Regions from separate parts of the Homo sapiens genome. Here all the other regions are linked to region 2. The links come from fine-mapping of genetic effects on gene expression. A gene starts in region 2. Each other region holds a variant in brackets. All regions are shown on one strand. Distances are between the middles of the regions. Region 1 has its middle 64 kb from the start of C5orf67. Region 2 holds the start of MAP3K1 (mitogen-activated protein kinase kinase kinase 1). Region 3 has its middle 81 kb from the start of C5orf67.

What was found.
Region 1: its variant is fine-mapped to the expression of MAP3K1 in whole blood (TOPMed, PIP above 0.99). The same link has a PIP of 0.9 or more in monocytes.
Region 3: its variant is fine-mapped to the expression of MAP3K1 in whole blood (TOPMed, PIP above 0.99).

The regions. Positions count from the first base shown.
Region 1 is chr5:56,666,557-56,673,353 of GRCh38, forward strand. No RefSeq gene overlaps it. Among named protein-coding and RNA genes, the nearest start is that of C5orf67, 64 kb to the left of the region's middle. RefSeq lists a silencer at 3,646-3,940 and an enhancer at 3,890-3,939. The variant T/C (reference allele first, on the strand shown) is at 3,581.
Region 2 is chr5:56,811,973-56,818,769 of GRCh38, forward strand. It overlaps MAP3K1 (mitogen-activated protein kinase kinase kinase 1), which reads left to right and starts at 3,577. Exons shown (of 20, transcript NM_005921.2): 1 at 3,577-4,083. The coding sequence starts at 3,602. RefSeq lists enhancers at 2,805-2,934, 4,386-5,209 and silencers at 3,295-4,064, 4,135-4,254, 4,435-4,674.
Region 3 is chr5:56,683,427-56,690,223 of GRCh38, forward strand. No RefSeq gene overlaps it. Among named protein-coding and RNA genes, the nearest start is that of C5orf67, 81 kb to the left of the region's middle. RefSeq lists an enhancer at 3,182-3,331. The variant T/C (reference allele first, on the strand shown) is at 3,296.

The sequences.
Region 1 (6,797 bases), 150 kb before region 2:
TACATACCGCTGGGCAAATTAAGAGGAGCTCTATTACTATCCCTAGGCTGGAAAGGTAAGAGGAAGAAGTAGTTCTCAGAGCTTGGAGGGAGAAGAAGAGGGATGCTTCACAGGAACTGCAACCTTGAGTAGAGGAATGTAGCCAGTCTGGAGCAAACCCTCAGGAAAGGAGCCACTGGAAAAGCCCTGAGTTTGGCTCTTCCTCCCTCCTTCCAATTATCTGCTGGTGCTGGAGGGAACTCCAGCTGGAATCCAGGGTCAAGGGAGCCCTTTCCTGTGGTCCATACAGGGCAGCCTCCAAGGGAAGAAAGTGGACCTTTCCCTTGGAGGGACAAACCAAAGACTGGCCACAACAACGTACTGTCGTGATTGATTCGCAGGCATGCCAAGTGTCTGCTGCCTAAGAGATTCCCTTTAATTTTACAAAACACTAGAGCTCAAGGCTGCACCCTCTGTACTTCAGAATATCCAGAGCCACCCACCCACGCAGTCCTCTCCCTTCTCCTGAGGCGGTCCTTGCTACATCCTTCCTGGTTTCTACATCTTTCCTACTCTCTCATTAGCCCACTTCCTGGACATGCTGGACAACACCCTTCTTCCGTCCTATTTCTCAACTCAGCATAAATTCAAGGGTTATTGTATGTATCAGATTTCTAACTGAAGGATAGTGGGTAAAGGGGGATAAAAGGCAACACAGAGTGAGGAACAACTTCAAAACCCTTATTAGATACCTCTTTCATAAATATTCACAAACCATTCTCCACTATGAAGACTTTCTCAGCTATGTACCACCATCTTCTAGAAACCCAGGCTCCTTCCACAGACTTCTTTTTTCCCTCTATTGACAGCCTTCTAAAACCCTAAATTCTGTTCTACTCTTTTTTTGTCTAAACTTTATTATTTTAATATTTATATTTTAGCATAAAATTTTATATTTCAATATAAAATATTACATTAATATTAATATTAAAATAGTTTACTATTTTAATGCAATTGTCTTTAAAATCAAATTGGCAAGTTTTTTTAATGTTCTTTTTTAAAAACTTTTTCATTTCAATAGTTTTTTGGGGGAAAAGGGGTGTTTGGTTACACAAATAAGTTCTTTAGTGGTGATTTCTGAGATTTTGGTGCACCCATCACCCAAGCAGTGTACACTGTACCCTATGTGTAGTCTGTTATACCTCGCCACCCCCCCATCCCTTGGTGACAATGGCTTTATAGTACAGTTTGAAGTTCAGTAATGTGATGCCTCCAGATTTGTAATAAAATTAATATTAATAAATAGTAATATTAAAATTAATTATGCTAATTAATATTATTGTGATATTTTATATTTTAATATAAAATATTCAATTATATTAATATTAAAATATTCTAATATTTTAATGCTATGCTTTTAAAAATCAAATTACAAGTTGTATAAAATTTTAATAGAACCAGGGCCAAGATTAGGGGGAGGAAAGTGAGGAAAGGGTATATACACATGCAGGATCAGATCCTCTCTTTATTTTAAATTTTCATCCTTTGTTCATCAGGGATTTTGTTTTCATTAATTTTGATTTTTAAAAGACTACTTTATAGTGCAGTTTATCTTAACCACGAAGTTTTTTGACATCCCCCTCGACCCCTTTTTTTTTTTTTGTATCCCAGGCAAGTGCCTCACTCAATATCACCTTAGTTATGGCCCTGCCAGTTGAGGGGGCTCAGGGAAAAAGACTTATCTTTCTACATTAAACATGTCAGTTTAGAAGCTCTTCCAAACCAAAAGGTAAGTTCTTTTCCCAAGCAGAATTTTGTCTTCAAACTCCTGCCAATTTTGAGAAGAATTTTTTTCTTGTGACCCCTCCCTCATTAGGCTATGAGATCCTTCAGAATAGAAAATGATGCTGTATCCGCTTCCATAGCCCCAGCACCCAGACTTGGTAGATGAATTATAAATATTTACTGCATACAAGGATCCAGTGCAGAGCTTTGTAAATTCCATTTGTTATTTGTTGAATATATTCACAGGTTTTCTTTTTATGTTAAAATCAAACATCTTAGAAAACCAGCTGGCAAGTACCTGAAGACATCATTTAATCTAATCTTTTCATTTTGTACATTGGGAAGCTGAGGCCAACCTCCATGGTTATACTTGCAGGCAAGTTGCTTAGAGTTTATCCAAAAAAATGATATTTCTGATTGTCAGGGTACTAAATAATTTTGGTAGCATCCCAGTAAGCAGAACAGAGTAAAATTCTCCCAGGGGTTCATGAAGCCCCTGCAATAACACAATGCTACTAATTAATTAATTAATACAATGCTGTTATTTCTGCCAACAGAAATCTCAGAATATGAAAAACACACAAGAGAGGCTAAATGGGAAAATTACTGACACCCAAGCCAATGACCTGAGTCAGAACAACTTTTATCAGAATGAAGCGCAGAAATATTAATATCAAGAAGCTGAACTTTTAAATCAAAGCCAGAAAATGTATTTGCCCAAGGTAAAGGCATGAGCAGAAGGTTTACAGAGAGAAGGACAATGATGATAAGGAAAGCTTGCTTCTTTACAATGAATGCATTGTGACAAACTCGTGAGGCACCAAGCAAGCTGACAAGGGTCCCTTCTTCCTTGCACCTAGGACAGTTTGGCTAAAGGACATCTAGGGTGACACGCCTCAGACAGTCCGCATTAATTTCACATCCTGGAATAGCCCGAAGAACCTGTCCAACCTGACTGTCAGCCTTTTCAAAATCACTTTTGGAATTCTTTGTTCAATCCTGCTTGGTTTACACTGGAACGTCTCTTCTGGGACTTCTCTGGTGACTTGATCTTTGTCCACAATGACATAGCCCAGGAGACCCACCAATACCCAGATTTGCCCAGTGGGTGACACTAATATTAGATCCAATTAGAAGTGTCAATTCAAAACAGATGAAGGACACATTTACACACAAGTCAGGGCTGCCACAAATTCATTTCTTCCTCACAATATCCTCTAGCAGAAAAAAGGGCAAACTGACCTTGAAGAAACCTCCTTTTTTTTATCGGTTACCATGGCAGCATGAACCGTCTCTCCCCAGGGCACCTGCCCATGGGTTTGCACCTGCCAGCTGGTAGCAAGAGTGCACCAGCAGCCTTGGTTCCCAGTGGCTGTGCTCACATCATCAACAAAGGTACCAGCAGTGCCAATTGGCTTCACGATATGGATACCTGCCCGCTAAGCATTGGCCTGGAGCTCGGGGACTTTCACAAAGGCCAGCCAACAGCTGGCAGGCAGGAACCTCCAGGTCATTGTCATCCTGGGCTGAATTGGAACATGCACTTGGGAGACAAAGGCTCTGTCTGTAACCACAGCATCCCTTCCTCCCTGGGTGTTTTATTTTCAGCTCTGGGTCCCCTGCTATGGGAAGGCCATGTGGCTGAAGGTGTCTTTCTTGTTTTTTTTTCCCCCCCCTCCTTTAGCATTGTCCTGCCTTGTGCATGGTGCAGAAAAGCTTTCTCTGTCCCATGTCTAGTTTTATTGCAAATCAGAGAGCTCACCATAAGTCATCCTGGGCCAGTGGGTTCAGAGGTGGAGCTGGTAACCAGAGGCCA[T/C]GTCAAACTTCCTCCTCTGGCTCCATACCAAGGCCTCGGAGGATTTTTTGTCACATGAGGTTACTGTAGTTTCACATCCTCTAAAGCAAAGCTCTGTCGAAACTCTCTATTCTCACATGGCTTCAGCTCAAACAACCACCCTACTCAGCTGCCTTCCTAACCCTTTCAAGCCGTGAATCAGGAGACCTGGGTTCCAGTTTCAGCTCAGTCTGCGTGCCCCAGAGCAATGACGGGGCCTCAACTTCTTTATCATGAAAATTAAGAGGCCAAAGTACCTTTCACTCAGGTTCCTTTCAACTCTCTCTCCCCTATCTTAAAAAAAAAAAAAAAACAACAGCTTATTTTTCCTGTTGCTTTTAGAAGAAACTCTTAACCTGAGACTCTCTAAAAATGAATAGAGATTATTGTGGTTTAAAAAATAAATGGCTACACACAGCAACCTGACTGTATCTCAAAAATATTATGGTAAATGAAAGAAGCTTCACATACAAAAGAGCTCATACTGTATGGTATTATTAACATGGAATTCAAAAATAGGCAAAACTAATCTACAGTTTTAAAAATTAGAATAGTGGTTGCCTCTGGCTGTGAGGTAGGAGCAGGGATTACCTGGGAAGGGGCAAGAAAGAATTTTCTGAGATGAAGGTTATATTTTATATCCGGTTAGGACTGGGTCACACAAGTAAGCCTTCATCAAAACTCACAGACTGCTACTCTTGAGAGGATCAATAGAGGTAATAAAGCAATTATAGCAAAATATTAATTGCAGGATCCAAGTTGTGAGTAAATGGGTATACCCTGTTTAATTCCTTCAACTTTCCTGTAATTTGGGAATCTTCATACTAAAATGTTAGAAAAAAACACGTTCTAATACATTTCAAAATTCCTGTCTCACTCATTCTCTCCTTTCTTCCATCCCCTCCCTCTTTCTTGACATGTGACCTTCTTTTCCCATTAAATGAGTCAATGGAAATGGGAATATTTATTGATTTGAGCAGTTAAGTCACCAGTGCTCTGTGATGACTAACTACTTTATCATTCATTGCCCATGGCTTTCAAGGGAAGAGGACAAGCTCTGTGCATCTTTCTCAAAGAAAGCGTTCCTACCTGTAAAAGTCTGTTAGAAAGGACTGCAGATTTAATAAGCATCTTTCAAGAGCTCTGTCCCCATTCCAACTCACCCCAACCCTCCAGCCCCAACACATTTGTTAAAAATTCACATTCAGAGATGCAGGACCCTCAACCTTGGACTTCCCAGACTCCAGAACTGTAGGACATAAACCTCTTGTCTTTACTTTAAAAAATAATAATAACATTCAGTCCCTTTTTTGAAGGTTTTTATCAGGATATCTCAAACTTAACACTGAAAGGAGGTAGCAAAATTTCTGTTTCCTCCATGTCTTTGTACTTGTAGAAATGGAGGCACAAAGGTAAGACACAGGTGTGACCAGGCCCTTCGAGTGGTTCAGCTGACTGAATATACACCTAGAGACCCTAAAACAAGCCACAGGGGTGAGAAATCAGAGAATTAGGAATGCGCAATTTAAAAGCACTGCGGTTTCCAATGTGAATTGACTGGAACTGAGGTTAAAGAAGAATTTCAGCATTTTTTGGTCACCAGTTTCTCAATGGACCATTTCCTGTCCTCTCACTGTCAAGTTTAGAGAATAAAACAAACCTCAAGGATGTATCTCTGCTCCACACCCTGTCTCAAGGCAAAGTTAGTGGTCACCAACAGCAAGATAGCACACACTGCATCTACAAATGTATGTGACATATCTTCACATTTTGTGTGTGTGTGTGTGTGTGTGTGACCACAACTTCAAAGAAACGAACAAAAGAAGCAACCAATAATCATAATGAAGAGGTTAAATTTTACCAGAGCCAATTGGGCAGAGAAAAAAAATCCAAAAACACAATGAAAACAAAGAATATTAGACCTGTTAAAAAATAATAATAAAAACCTTAGAGTTCATTTTAGTCAAACTTTTCATTTTGCAGAAAAAGAAACTGGATCTCAAATTTCCAATTTAATGAAAGTTATGTCTGAGAATATAAATCTGAGACCTGATCTCACCACCAGAAAATAGGGTTGGAATTGACCTTATAAATAATATATCTAAGCCCCTCAGTTCACTGGTGAGGAAACTGAGGTTCAAAGAAATTTCAGGGACTACTTCGAGTCCACACTGTTACTTAGTAGGACTAACTCCCATGTGTTTATGCTTCTGAGGAAGACAGCTTCGGTACCTTCCTTCCCTGTCCAAATCCTATCGGCAGCCTTTATCACTCTTTCGTTCTTTGAAATGAGCAGTTGATGTTTTTCTCATGTTCTTATACAAATAACCACCTTAATTCAGCTTAGAGACCCACATCTCCTTTCCAACCAGATTAGTATCCCTTACAGAAATTCAGGCACTGAGTCTCCCTCTGTCGCTCAGGCTGGAGTGCACAACCTCAGCTTACTGCAACCTCTGCCTCCTGGGTTCCAGTGATTCTCCTGCCTCAGCCTCCTGAGTAGCTGGGATTACAGGCATGCACCACTACGCCCAGCTAATTTTTGTATTTTTAGTAAAGACAGGGTTTCACCATGTTGGCCAGGCTGGTCTAGAACTCCTTACCTCAAGTGATCTGCCTGCCTCAGCCTCCCAAAGAGCTGGGATTACAGGCATGAGCCACTGCATCTGGCTACATCCAGGCAATTTTAAATACCTGTCTGTGTTTTATAACCACTCCAAGCTGGTCAGCCTCAAGGAAATCAACTAGGAGAGTTCAGAGTTTTTCCATGTTAAATTCTGACTCTATTTACCAAAGCAAACAAATTAAGGTACTGAAAGACTTTAGTAAACACAAATATTTTTACTTGTGGTTACAGAGGCTTTGCAAGAGCTCTTGTTCTTAGCAGTGATTATGTTGAGCCATTCATTTCATTCACGTAATAGTCTGACAAAATGTGAATGCCTACCATGTGTCCAGTACTTTCTAGGTGATGGAGACGCAGCAGGGAACAAAGTTTCTGCACTCTTGGATCTCATATCTACTGCAAGAAACAGACAAGCAATAAACAAGTATAGCCATAATATGTCAGATATTGATATGTGCCATGGGGAAAAAGAAAGTGAGAAAGTAGGTGAGTGGGTACCAGACTGCAGCAGTAAGGAAGGGTGGTTGCTAATGTCATATATAAGATGGACTCACTGATAAACAGACTTGAAAG
Region 2 (6,797 bases):
AACTAGTTGATAAGTGTTGCACTGGGTACTGCCTCACTTTGATCCCCAGTTTCAATCACTTTTCTCTCAAAGCATTTCACTTCATTTTCACTGGAACAACTTTCTTTTCGCACACACATACTCATGTTTTTAAATTTAATAATCAATTGTGTAATATTTAATTAAATTTCACAAGGAACATTGTAATAGGTGGAATCAAGTTTGGGAACAAGCACAATGGATTCTCATGGGACCCATAACTCACCTAGTGGGAACAGAAGTATGCAGGTGCACACCAGCCGCTGGCCTGAGCATTTATTGTGCTGTATCATCCCTCTGCATGTTGTACACCACACAGTAATGGCTGGTATCTGTTACTGGATGAGTCAGCTAAATGGAGGCTGGTTAAGAGACCTTCTACTATAATGTCATTTACAGTGCCCTTGTAGGGAACCAATTATCCCACTGATGACAGGATTTTCTGACTTAGAACATCTGAAAACACCTGGGAAGTATGTTGTCTGGAAAGAACATGCAGAAACCAAATTCTAGCCCCAGCACTCCTGCAAGTATTCCATAATAAATATTTGTAAGCTTGAAAGAACACCAGCTTTTACCCTATTCTCAAGGTTATATTATTCTTTTATGTTTATCTGAGGTATAGATCTCACAAACAGCCATGAATATGTGAATACATTCACATACTGATGGATCTGGAATTCTACCAGTCAGCCTGATAAATACCCACTAATAAAAATATCTGTAGATTGGAATATTTTGTTTATTCATTTTTGTAGAAATGAAAAACAACAAACAATATCCTCAGAGAAGAAAAATTCCTGCATATGCACAGTAGGTGCTTACTAAATATATGATGAATGATGTACAGGCTGAAATATTTCTCCCAATGTATATTATGTCTGCTCATTCTAATATTTGTGATATTTATGTACAGTGAGGAAATGCCCAGTGTCAAAGTGGATCCTCAACGTGAATATGCTGCAGGAACTGAAGTGTGATGTAGGCAGTTTCCAGAAGCACTATGTGGAGGCAGTGATCTGTAATGCACTGGTATTAAGGTTATTGAAATGGTCATGAAATTGCCATGAAATTGCATGCGTGAAATCATTGCAAGGTTTACGTCCCAGTGAGGATGGAAATGAAGAGCTTGGAAACAGGAATTGGAGCTTTCAGTCTAGAAACAACCTTGGAAGAAATACAAGTCTCCTGAATGTTATTAAATAAATCATATTAAGAGAATTCAGAGCCTACAGTACTTGATATTTGACATCCACCTCTCTGCAGTAACATAGCAGGACTGAAGAGCACCAAAACCAGCTAGAGTCTTAATCACGCATTAGACTCAGAAACTTCTATTAACATATGGCAGAGGGAGAACACCCTTTTCAGTTAAGCATGTCCTTTGATTCTCTCTTTAAGAAATCAGTGTGTCCATATGCAGATGCATAATGACAACCTGAATATTTACGTAAACAAAGAAAAAAATGACTCAAAGCAACAAAAACTGTGGGAAAATACCAACACTTAGGTTTCTCCATGGTAATACGTGGTGGATGGAGGAAGTGAGAGAATTGTAGCTAGTTCATAGTGCTGCGCTGGGTAGCCCTCTCCCTTTGATCCCCAGTTTCAACCACTGTACAAACAGTCAAAAATCAGTTTTGCTGGAATCTCCTTTTTACTCTGCTACTCTGGCTAAAGTCTTCCACTTACTTTTCTCACTTACAGGTACCTGAATATGTGCGTGCAAATGTAAAAGTCTTTAGATCAAAATAGGAACAAGGAAAGTTTATCCGTTTCAGTTTAGGATTTGGTGGGTGTGGCAACCCAGGAAGACCTGAGAAATAACCACTGTTTGGTTTGAATGATACATTTGACTGCCATTAAAATAGCATATAATTATAGCCTAAATGTAGACTTAATTTTTAACAGATTTATCTGAACTTTCAAAATTTGTACCGTTGGGTGTAACGATCTAAAACTATCTTATGGGAGATGTTACAGCAGTTTTCAAATCATTGAGCTAATATGAAATCTGGACTTTTTAAAACCCCTCTGATCTAACCTGGTTACGCAGTTAACATTGTATCTGGGAAAGGGGCTTTCATTTTACCTAGTCTCCAGAAGTCAATGGAATTATTCTGTAAATAGTTCAGGCTTTTGTCTAAATATGTGAAGACTGACAAGACTATCTCCGTGAGAATCCGCACCCCCCCACCCCAACCTCCCCCCTCCTTAATCATGTTTCACAAAGTAAATCTATAGACGTTCCTCCTGGGTTTTGGGAGATTCCCCATCCTAAACAAACCAGCTGGAGGAAAGGAAAGGAAGGAAGAAATAAACGCAACACAGAAGTTCTCCTCAGTTGACAAAAGGTCAAAAATCATTAACGTGTAAATGTTGCTTTTTCCATCCCAAAGCACCTTCTCACGTAGAGTCCAGGGACTAGGAGGACTCACAACGCAGCGATGGGCAGCCAGGCCCTGCAGGAGTGGGGACAGAGGGAACCCGGCCGGTGGCCCGACCCTGCAGGGAAGAAGGACGTGCGGCGAGAAGCATCGGATTCGGGGAGGGCCGGGACCTGGCCGAGGGTGACATTACCGAGCACTTCCTGGCACAGCGCTGGTCCCCTCCCCAAACGCGCTATATGTGGTTCTGTACGGGACTGCCTTTCCCAAAGACAGCCAAGGAAAAACTAAAGATCGACGGGGACACCCGCCTCCCTTCCTCGCCCCAACGGTTTCTCAGAGGCTGTGGGGACTTGGTGAGGGTAGGGGGTAGTTGTCCCAAATCAGCAGCTTCAGGATGTAAGGTATTACAGAAAACTTTGAAGTTTTGTTATCTGTAGCACAGGGACAGGGGTGGGACAATAGAGAAGGAATGTTTTCTTTTCAAAAGAAAACACAAACAAAACTTTATTTTTCTGGTCCGCGGCAGCCTGTCTGCTGAACGTTGACTTGCTTTCGCTTTGCAGCAGGCGACGGTCCCGGGCGCCACCTGCGCGTCGGTGGGAGGCTGGTCCACGCCCGGGTCCCCCGACGCCCACTGCAAAGGGCAGTGGGAATGACAGACTGTAAACCCTCTCGCCTGCGTCCCCTTCAAGCACCAGAAACCCAAGTTGGAACTAATTCTTTCTTTCGGAAGGTGCAACTCCCCTCCCGCGAGCTCCGCGGTGCCGGGCCGAGATTGCCGAGAGGAAGCGGCGCAGCGCTGCCGCCAAGGCTCCTCCTGTCGCCGGTGCGGCCGGGACTACCTGGCGGCGCGGCGCGTGCAGCGCGCAGAGTCCCGGGAGCCCACGCCTCCGCCTCCGCCCCCGCCCCCTCCGCCTCCCAGTCCACCTCGCCCGCCCGCCCTCTCGCCCGGCGGAGAGCACAGCCCACTCCCTCCCACCTGCGGCCGCCGGGCCGCCCTCCACCCACACCTCTGCCGCAGGCCGGACCCAGTGCGCCCGCCCGTCGGTCAGTCCAGGCCAGGCGCCCGGCGGGCCGCGCTCACGCAGTTGGCGCAGGAGGCCTTACGCTGGCGGCGCAGTGCCCGCCCCCTGCGCTCTCCCCGCCCCCTCCCTCCCTCGCAGGGGCCGAGCGAATGTAGCCCGCGAGAGAAAATGGCGGCGGCGGCGGGGAATCGCGCCTCGTCGTCGGGATTCCCGGGCGCCAGGGCTACGAGCCCTGAGGCAGGCGGCGGCGGAGGAGCCCTCAAGGCGAGCAGCGCGCCCGCGGCTGCCGCGGGACTGCTGCGGGAGGCGGGCAGCGGGGGCCGCGAGCGGGCGGACTGGCGGCGGCGGCAGCTGCGCAAAGTGCGGAGTGTGGAGCTGGACCAGCTGCCTGAGCAGCCGCTCTTCCTTGCCGCCTCACCGCCGGCCTCCTCGACTTCCCCGTCGCCGGAGCCCGCGGACGCAGCGGGGAGTGGGACCGGCTTCCAGCCTGTGGCGGTGCCGCCGCCCCACGGAGCCGCGAGCCGCGGCGGCGCCCACCTTACCGAGTCGGTGGCGGCGCCGGACAGCGGCGCCTCGAGTCCCGCAGCGGCCGAGCCCGGGGAGAAGCGGGCGCCCGCCGCCGAGCCGTCTCCTGCAGCGGCCCCCGCCGGGTGAGCAGCACGGCCGGGGTCGCGGCGGGGACTTGGAGAGCGGGCAGAGGGCAATGAATGAACCCCGGGCACCATGCACGGCGTCCCGGGGTTCAGCGCAGCGAGGCTACGCGCCGCTCGCCGGGACCTACGCCCCTGAGCACCCCCCGACCCCTTCGGAGTCGGGCGGCGCCCCGGACCCAGCCTGGGGGACCGGACGGGGACGTGCGGAAGAGTTTGTTATTGTTTGCAGACATGTGACAGGCGTGCGAGCCTCTCTGCGGGGAACCGTTGCGAAAAGGTGTAGGGGGCCACGGCTGGCTTTGTGGGACTCCTGGAATCGGGGCTCTCCGAGGAGCCCGGGGGCGGGGCACGGCCCTGCGGCGGCGCCCCCGGACGGGTGTCCCCGGGGCAAAGGCACTGGGGGGCGAGGCCCGAGCCTGAGGCGGGCGGTGGTCGGAAGAGGGGCGGGGTGGGTGAGAAGCCCGAGGTCGGGTGGGAGACTGAGAGGACCGAAGAGAAAGTAGCAGGTCCCAGCGGCCGTGACAGGCAGAGCCCCTCGGCCCGCCCGGGACTCGAGTCCCTAGGCAGATACCGCGGGCTGGGCCCGGACGCAGGCGGCGCGCCCCCAGCGCCGGCCGCAGGGCTCCAGGAGGACGGCTCGGTAACGCCTGTCAAAGCCGTGCGGCGGGAGGCTGCACACTCGCGGAGGCTTGCAGTCTTTTAGGAAGTGCGGTTTGTCTAATTGCAGCCCCCAAGGGGCTTTGAGTGTTCCTGGGAATGCGAACTGCACTGCTAAGTCACTTGAGTGACTTCTGTTTGGAGTTTGAATTTGGCCTTTGAAGTTTGCATTTGGCGGAGTGGTGTAAGAGCCAGGACCGGATGTGTCAGCCATTCAGTTTCAAAGCAGTGGTGACTGCTCCCCGCAGCCCCTCCGGCTTGGCCCGGGGACTGCGGCGCGGGTGCAGTGCTTCCTGCTCGGTGCCCTGGCGCGGGCCGCCCGCTGAATTCCAGGGGCCGCAGTGCGGTGGGCTTCGGCTCAGATGCGTCTTCTGGTGCATATGAAGTACAGTATGTGTAAGGTAATTTAGACCAGCGGTTTATTGGCCTCGCCCATTTTTGGCTACTGGAAATTTTTATGTTAAAGGAAATTCTTTTAAGTGTGACAGCTACATCCTTGTTTGTTTGTTTTTTAAAAACCTGATTAACGTATGCAAAGTACAAAGTCTTGATGGGTATTTTGAGTTGCTGGAAATGTTTTTGTGATAGTCCCTCGTGGCCCTGTAGAATTCCCTGACCTTTATTATGAGAAGAAAGCGTGTCATTTTGTGAGACGAATTTGACAGTAGGAGTCCTTGGTTTGGATTCATTATCTAAAGTGATCTGGCATTTTTTGTGCATTTGATTATTTGCTTAAAATCACGATCCATTTAGTATTTGGAAGTCCCCTTCCTCTCCCCAAGAACTAAAAAATATGCTTCGCACTGTACCATGGCACTACTGAGACCAAAGGAGATTTGTGACTGATACAGTTTTGTGTGCACTTGTACATGTAATTTATTCTTACAAGAGTTATGTACCTCTATAGTTTTCCCATTTCTGTGCAGATTGTATTAAAACTTAACTGGAATAATTCTTTGAAGGCAACTTCTACTTTAAATGAATTCCAGATAAAAATTTTTAACCCCAAATTTAAGAAATTGTATCTATTGAGACCTAACTTTTTGGATACAATAAATAATTTAGCAAACGTCAGCATTCTAGTACTCTTAATGAGCTGTGAATATAGTAGAAGAGCATCCACTGTAAAAATAATGTACTGAAATTGTTTAATGTTGTCTCTTGACACAAAATAAGAGGACTAAGGTGGAGGCAGATAGAATTTAGGGACTAAGTAATCCATGCTTAGTATTTGCGTTTTGTAACCGAGGTTTTTTCCCCTTTGCTTAAGGTGTAGATTATAATTGCACAGTATAAGAAAATAATGGGCTTGTAAGGATAATCTTTTTTAAAGAAATTATTTTTACGAGTCAGAATGCTGTTGGTTTATCCCAAATGTCATACGTAAAGATTTCATTTATAGTAAAATGTTGATTCCCTAACCTTATGAAATATAGTGAATTTTTTTTTCTTAACAATTGGGTTGAAATTCATTTGAATCTGTTCGTATAAAACTTTGTGGGGAAAGGGCTTGTATCTTATTTGAGTGTGTATATTTTGTATTGCATGTTGGTTATGCTACACTATTACTTACCATTTAAAGTTTTAGGAAAAAAAACCCTTAATTATAGCCAACTCAATAAAATATCAATTGAACTTTATGTTTTACTTTTTTTTGACAGTTAAGTTACATTCATACTTCCAAGAGGAAAATCTAAGATTTTGAAATATTTGAGAGTTCTGTGATCTTTTTTTTAATTTTAGAATTTCCTTCTGATCTTTGAATGTAGAAAATATACTTTGAATTAGAATTTATATAAATAAATAATACTCGTATTTAAATAGAAGATTTTAAGTTTGTCCCTCTTTTTCAGGGTGATAGCTGAAATCAGTGAAAGTGCCTGTAAGTGGCGCCCAAGGGTTTGGAATTTTTCCTTATATTACAGAATTTAGGGGCTTTTTCTTCCTATTTACTGTCTTTGAAGAAAAATTACAGTGTTACTCTCCATTGAACAGCCTATTGTGAGTTTGGTAGATATAATTACCCCATCCTATTTTTGTAACTTAAAAAACCA
Region 3 (6,797 bases), 130 kb before region 2:
GGGCTTATTCAGGATTTTGACAAAAAGCTTACACAGCAGGTTTTCTGATTGAGTCATTCTAAGTAATTCTGAGGCCCTGGGAAAGTCAACCTGCTGTATCATTATAACTGCCAGAATGCTAAGTGTGCCACCTGGATGATCTAGACCATCTATGTGACATTGCCAGGAAGCTTTTATAGCACCATCTCACAGATGAGAAAACCAAGGCATAGGGAAGTTAAGCATTGCTATGATCTGAATGTTTGTGTACCCCCAAAATTCTTATACTGGAATCTAATATCCAGTGTGATGGTATTAAGCGGTGGGGCATTTTGGAAAGTGATAAGTTATGAGGCTCTGCCCTATGAATGGGATTCGTGCCCCTATAAAAGAGACTCAAGGAAGCTCCCTTGCCCCTTCTGCCATGTGAAGACACAGCAAGAAGGCACCATTTTGAAGCAGAGAGAGCAGCCTTCACCGGACACTGAATCTGCTAGTTCCTTGATCTTGGACTTTGCAGCCTCCAGAACTGTATGCAATACATTTCTGTTTACAGATTACTGAGTCTAAGGTATTTTGTTACAGCAGCTCAAATGGACTAAGAAAAGTGGCTTCTTCAAGAACATGTGCCTGATAAAGTTGATGAAATCAGGATTCAAACCTAGGCTGTCTGATACAGGCCCACAGGCTTAACCACTACACCACACTGCCTTTCTCCATGTATGCCACAAGGACTTAATATGAGTGGCTTACAAGGACTCATATTAAGTGACTTCCCAGTCAACTCTTTGTGCTCACATCACATCTCCTCAGCCCACCTCTGATTTCAGCCCTGGTTTTGGCATTGAGTTCTAGAAATCTCAGGTCATTTTCTTGCTTTCTGCCTCAGGACCTCCTGTGAAGGTGTGGGAGCCCAGGCAGGCCACTTTCAAGTCAGCTTGGAAATCCTCAAGCAATGAGGCGTGAGAACTGTGAAGAAGTGCCCCAGGCTCCAGCATAACAAAGGACAATCTGGAGACTTTCCATGCACTTCTTAGAACGCCAGGGTAACCATGCTCCCGTTGTCCACAGCATCAGCCTTGATAACATACCCTAATATTTTCCTTTCTGCCACATTCTCTCCATCCCCTCATTCCTGCTTCTTGGGTTCAACTCCTAAATAAACTACCTGCACGTGAGATCTACTGTCGGGCTTGCTTTTGGGGAACCAAACTTAGACATCCTGCCTTTGCAGCTTGATGAACCACACTGTTTCTTGGGGCTCCTTCCTAATCTGTTATTCAGATTTTTACATCCTACACAAATTTTCAGCAACCTGCCCTGAATGAAGTCCATCAGGGCATACATTCCAGAAGGAGCTACTGCCAGTACATGAGACAATTCTCTTGTGTTAAAATTTACCTAAAGGTTCCGGGCTGTGAGTTGCTGAATCTGCATTTCCACCTAGTTTTCCCAGAAGTGGCTGTTCATCCAGGAAGACTTGTTCTGCTCACTAGTCTATACGGAAGGCTTGGCATAGTTCTGTACTCAGTTATCCAGAAAGACAGTTCTGGTCCTCATATAATCGTGTGGATGTGTTTAGAGATTCTGTAAGGTGAAAAAGCAATCTGCCAGTGCATTAATTTGGAGAAACTATGTATTTCTATTTTAAAACTGGAAAATTGCTTTTTAAAATTTGTCATTTCTCCAAATATTTTATTTTTCACTATGCTAAGTGATCCAAATGCATTGTACATTCCCTATGCTGTAGGTACAATTATTGTGCCCTCTAACCACTATAGATGCACAATAAACTCAGAGTAATAAATTAACATTCAAGACAAATCATTAAATTCATGTTCACAATTCCCCCCATAAAGAAAGACTGTAAGCATCTCTTTAAAGGTATGTGACAGTAAGGTTATTTTGGCTTAAGACCAATTTTCAGTGCACAGATCAAGAATGTTACTTATTCTTTTATTTGTTTGTGTTTTAATTGTGGTGAAATATACATAGAATTAATCATGTTAGCCATTTTCACTGTTCAGTTCAATAGTGTTAAGTATATTTGCACTGTTGTACAATGAGTCTCCAGAACCTTTTCATCTTGCAAAACTAAAATTTTCTATCCATTAAACAACTCCTTGTTTCTCCCTTCCCCAGCCCTTGGCAGCCACCTTCTACCTTCTATTTTTATGACTTCACATACTCTAGATATCTCATAGAAGTGAAGTCATACAGTATTTGTCCTTCTGTGACTGGCTTGTTTCACTTAGCATAATGTCCTTGAAGTTCATCCATGTAGTAACTTCCTTTTTAAGGCTGAATAGTATTCTACTCATGCAAATACCACATTTTGTCTATTCATTCATCCATCCGTATACACTTTGTGTGGCTTCTACTTCTTGACTATTGTGAATAGCTCTGCTATGAACATGGGTGCACCAGCAAGTTGCTGTTAATGAAAATGATTCATTCTGTAGTGTTCCTTCCAGCTCACAGTCTTACATTCCTGTTATCAAGAAAAGCTAACTTAAAGTCCTTCTTACTCAGTTATCCACATTTGGAATTAGCTTAACCTGTTGGCCTAACAGTCATGACCCAGTGTAACCACTCATGTCTCAGCACAGATGACAAAACGCAACTTGGCTAGGAGGAAATAGGCTCAGTGGAGGGCTGGCCTTGGAGAACTCATCTTAACAAAGTGGAGACAAAGTTATTTTGGGAGGTCATGTAAGCAGAGTGATTATCATCATGGGGTCTGGGATCAAAATCCCAGCTCCAGCCTTCACTAGCTGTGTGACCTTGAGAAAGTTACTTAACCTCCCTAAACCTCAGTTCCTAATCTCTAAACAGAGGCAGTGATCATAATAGTATGGACATCTAGGAACATGGTGAGGAGTAAATAAAATAATCCATGTTAAGAATTTAGTGTCTGGCATACAGTAAGCGCCCAACAACTGTTAGCCCATATTCTGTAGTTACAGGTCACTGTTCCAAACCCCTCAATTTACAGAGGAGGCTCAGCAAGTTGAAGGAACATTTACTCCTGCCTTCACACGTAGCCATATGCATATGCAGACACAAAGCCACAGAGCTCCGTGTGTGCAAAGACCCCCTGTTTGATTTTAAAACCCTTGTGATCAGGGCTTTACTATCTAGCTATGAAAGTTTGGTTTATCTCAAAACTTTGATTTAAAAAACACGTCAATTAACCTAAGTTTGACCCTGAGAGCCCACAGGCTTAAAAACAAAAGCTAAAAAACAGGAACTGAAAAAGTTAAAAAAAAAAAAAATGTGAGCAAAACTAAGTAAACAGCATGCACACTTTTCTACT[T/C]TTCTGCTAAGAAAATCCTTAACTTTGTATTTCTTGAATCCTGTTTAAAATATATTTGGCTTTCTTTTGCATCAAATGTGGACCATCATAACCATCATCCAAAGACCACTGCACTTTAAATAATGATCCACGCTTTTACTTGGCCTTTCACAGGCTGGAACCAATTACCAAATTTCTCTCCCCACCCCCCCACCCCCACCCACCAGCACATTTCTGCCTTTGCAGCTCTGATTACTAGAGTTGAACACATTTGAGCAGTTCATTAGACAACAGTCCAAAGCTTCAGGGCAACTTGGGGGCCACATTCACATAGAATTCAGAGTTTGCAGCCTGCCAGCCAAGCACGCTCCCTCATGCATGCTGCTGCTGAGCAACTCCCAGTCCCATAGAACAGCCTCCCAGCTACAGTGTCCTCTCTAAATCTCTGGCTCATGGTACCTTTCAAGTACATGGTGAGCTTCCTCTAGCATTCTGGGACACTTTAAGGAATCTACCTGGCTCTTTTTCATTTTTAAATTTTTAAAAAATTATTATGTATTATTATTATTGTTATTTTTTAAGCCAGGGTCTCACTCTGTCATCCAGGCTGGGGTGCAGTGACAGGATCACAGCTCATTGCAGCCTCAAACTTCTGGGTTCAAGCAATCCTCCTGCCTTAGCCTCCCAAAGTATTGGGATTATAGGCATGAGCCACTGAGCCTAGCCTTCTTTTTTTTGATCAGATTTACATTCCTCAATATTCAAGGTTCACAATGCAAAGCAACATTAACGATTTATTTTCTTCTCAGGTTTTGTGTGTGTGTGTGCACACGCATGTGTGTGTAATTTTATTTTATTTTCTAGCTGGAAAGAGGCTGTTTCTCTTGGGGCTAGTCAATTCTTAGAGATGGCAAAGGGCTCAGCCTTTCATATGAAAATGAGCCAATCCAGCCTTTCATAAGAAAACTACCCAGTCTTGCCTGTGCACCCAAGGAGGCAATATTCCTCTGCCTTAATTAACCCAGGGCCAGGTATCAGGCAACTAGGGGCCACCCCTCTATCTTAGAGGCTGCCCCAAATAATTCAAACTAGCCAATCCTAAACTGTCTACCCTGCCCTGCCTTTCTCATGAAAACCCCATTTATTGGGGGCACTGGCCAAATCTTCCCCCAGTTCCTATCTTCTGCTTCCTACCACCCTGGTGTTTTTCCATGTGCCCCTGCATGGCACGACCATGCCTCCTGTCACGAGGACCTGTGAGCATAAACTTTGTTTTGCTGAGCTTCTCCTCTGTCTCCTTTTGTGGCCACAGCTAACTAAGCATCTCATAAAAAAGTGCAAAATATCAGGTCACCCTGCCTTGCTCCTGTTCCTGCCCAAGAACCACCCAGCACATGAGGGGTTAGCAACACAGGCTGGGCATTAAAATCACCTGATTTTTGCACTTTTCTATGCACATTTCTATAAAACTATGGATGTCTAGATATCACTCCAGGCCATCTGAAGCTGCACTTCTGAGGATGCCTCGCAGGGCTCAGCTGTTCCTAGGAACTACTCAGGTGATTGTGATGAATGGCGAGGGCTAAGAACCTCTGCCCAACCAAAACAGGATGTCAGTGTACAGCCCCAGGCCCCACACTCCAAGGGCAGGCCATGTGCAAGATGAATTGCTGCAGAATCCTTCAAGGCATACCAAAAATTCCCATAAGGAGTGACCCCAATTCACCGTTAAAGGGGAAAATGTCCTTCCTCAGCTCATCTAGAAATAAAATCTACAGGACTCATTTCTACTTGGGGTCACTGAAGGCCTGATCCTACACTCCAGCCAACATCACACCCTGAGTGCACATCTTATCTGGCTGAACACTGCTTCCAGCCTGTCCTCATGAGTACACCCACATAACTCCAGTTCACTGCAGATTAAGTCAGAGAGAACCTTGCTATGGTTGGAGCTCTGCAGGAGAGCTCAGGGACTACCAGCAGAGTTCTCTCTAAGCAGCAGGACCAGTCCATGTCAGATGACCATGACCCAGGGAGCAGGCAGACCCCTGAGCATCATCAGCAAAAGATGAGGGAGGCAGACAATGTAGAAGGTATTCAATGGCTGGACTAAAAGCAGCACATACAGGAGGATCATCCCAGTGTAATCAGGGCTGCAAAGAATTAGGGCAGAGATTGAATGTTGAAGCCGGTGCAGGGGGGAAAGACACTGACCAGAGCACTGGGCTCTGGGGGTAAAATGCCTGGATTAAACCCTGGCTCTGACCCATAATTTGTGGCAAGCAAGAAAACAAAAACTCTGTAAGCCTCAGTTTTCTTATCTATCAACTGGGAATAATTGCTTTACTCATAGGGTTATTATGAGGAACAGATGAGATAGTGAGGTTGAGTGCCAGCACAGTAGCCAGTACTCAATCAAATATAACTGTAAAACAAAGGGGCAGTTCCTAAGGCCCAAAATGGAGTTTTAGTCAAAAGGAAATAAGGCAAAAGGCCAGTTACAAGATGGAGCAGGCCCTGCAGTGGAGTTGAAAACCCAGGTCACCATGATGACTGTGGACTATAACTTTGGGTTCCAGTTTCTTTGCAAAAACAAGATTGTCCCCCAAGTCCTAGACAAATTGGGCAGCCGTGGCCTTAGCTACAAAGGTTAGAAAGAGCCAAGCAACCATTACCCTGACTGTCTTGGCACAGGTTCAAAGCTGATGATCACTCACCGGGACTTTGAAAGGCCACTTTCCTTTCAATCCACAGGTCCTTCCCAGTATGGTCCTTCAAGAATTATTTCTTTTTTTGTTTTTTCAACTAACCCCTGGTATTTTCCATGTCCAGTGCCACGCTTCTATCCTCATTCTGGGCAGGGGCCTCCCTCCTGTCTAGCTCTCCAGCCATTTAAGTTTCTCCATCCGGCACTGCCCCGGTTTTGCTCTGTTTCCCCATCAGCCTTCATTCTAGACCCTTCACACAGGCAGCTCCCCAGCCCACAGAGTCCAAAAGCAGGCTTTCTTCTCTACCCTTTCTCCCCACTCTCACCCAGTCCCATCCTCTGCCCTACCCACCCATCCCCGACAAGCTAGGATTTCATTATCCTCCAACTGAACCATATAAAGCCTCCATTTAGGAATTCTCATACATATTTTCATGTTAGCAACACCCACCATCTTCCCTGGAAAGTTCCCATTAGCTTTCCCTTAAGCACTCAAAATACAGTGAGACTTCACATTAACATTTTAACACAGAAACCTCTGTCCTGGCTTTTCGGTTCACTGTCATTCAGGGGGAGGGAAGCATTTTACCATACTCTGAGAATCAATTCCTGAGGTGGAAAAATGGGGACATTTTTCTAAACATGTTTGTTTCTGATCTTCCTTGCTGTCCTCCCCCAGCCTCCCATGAAGCTGATATCCCCATCGGATTGGACCTGCACTCTTGGTGAAATGTTGCTGCTGCTGCTGCTGCTGCTGCTCATGAGAGCAGAGAGATTTTTGTGATCTGTTTCTGGCACAGACCAATAGATCTGTTG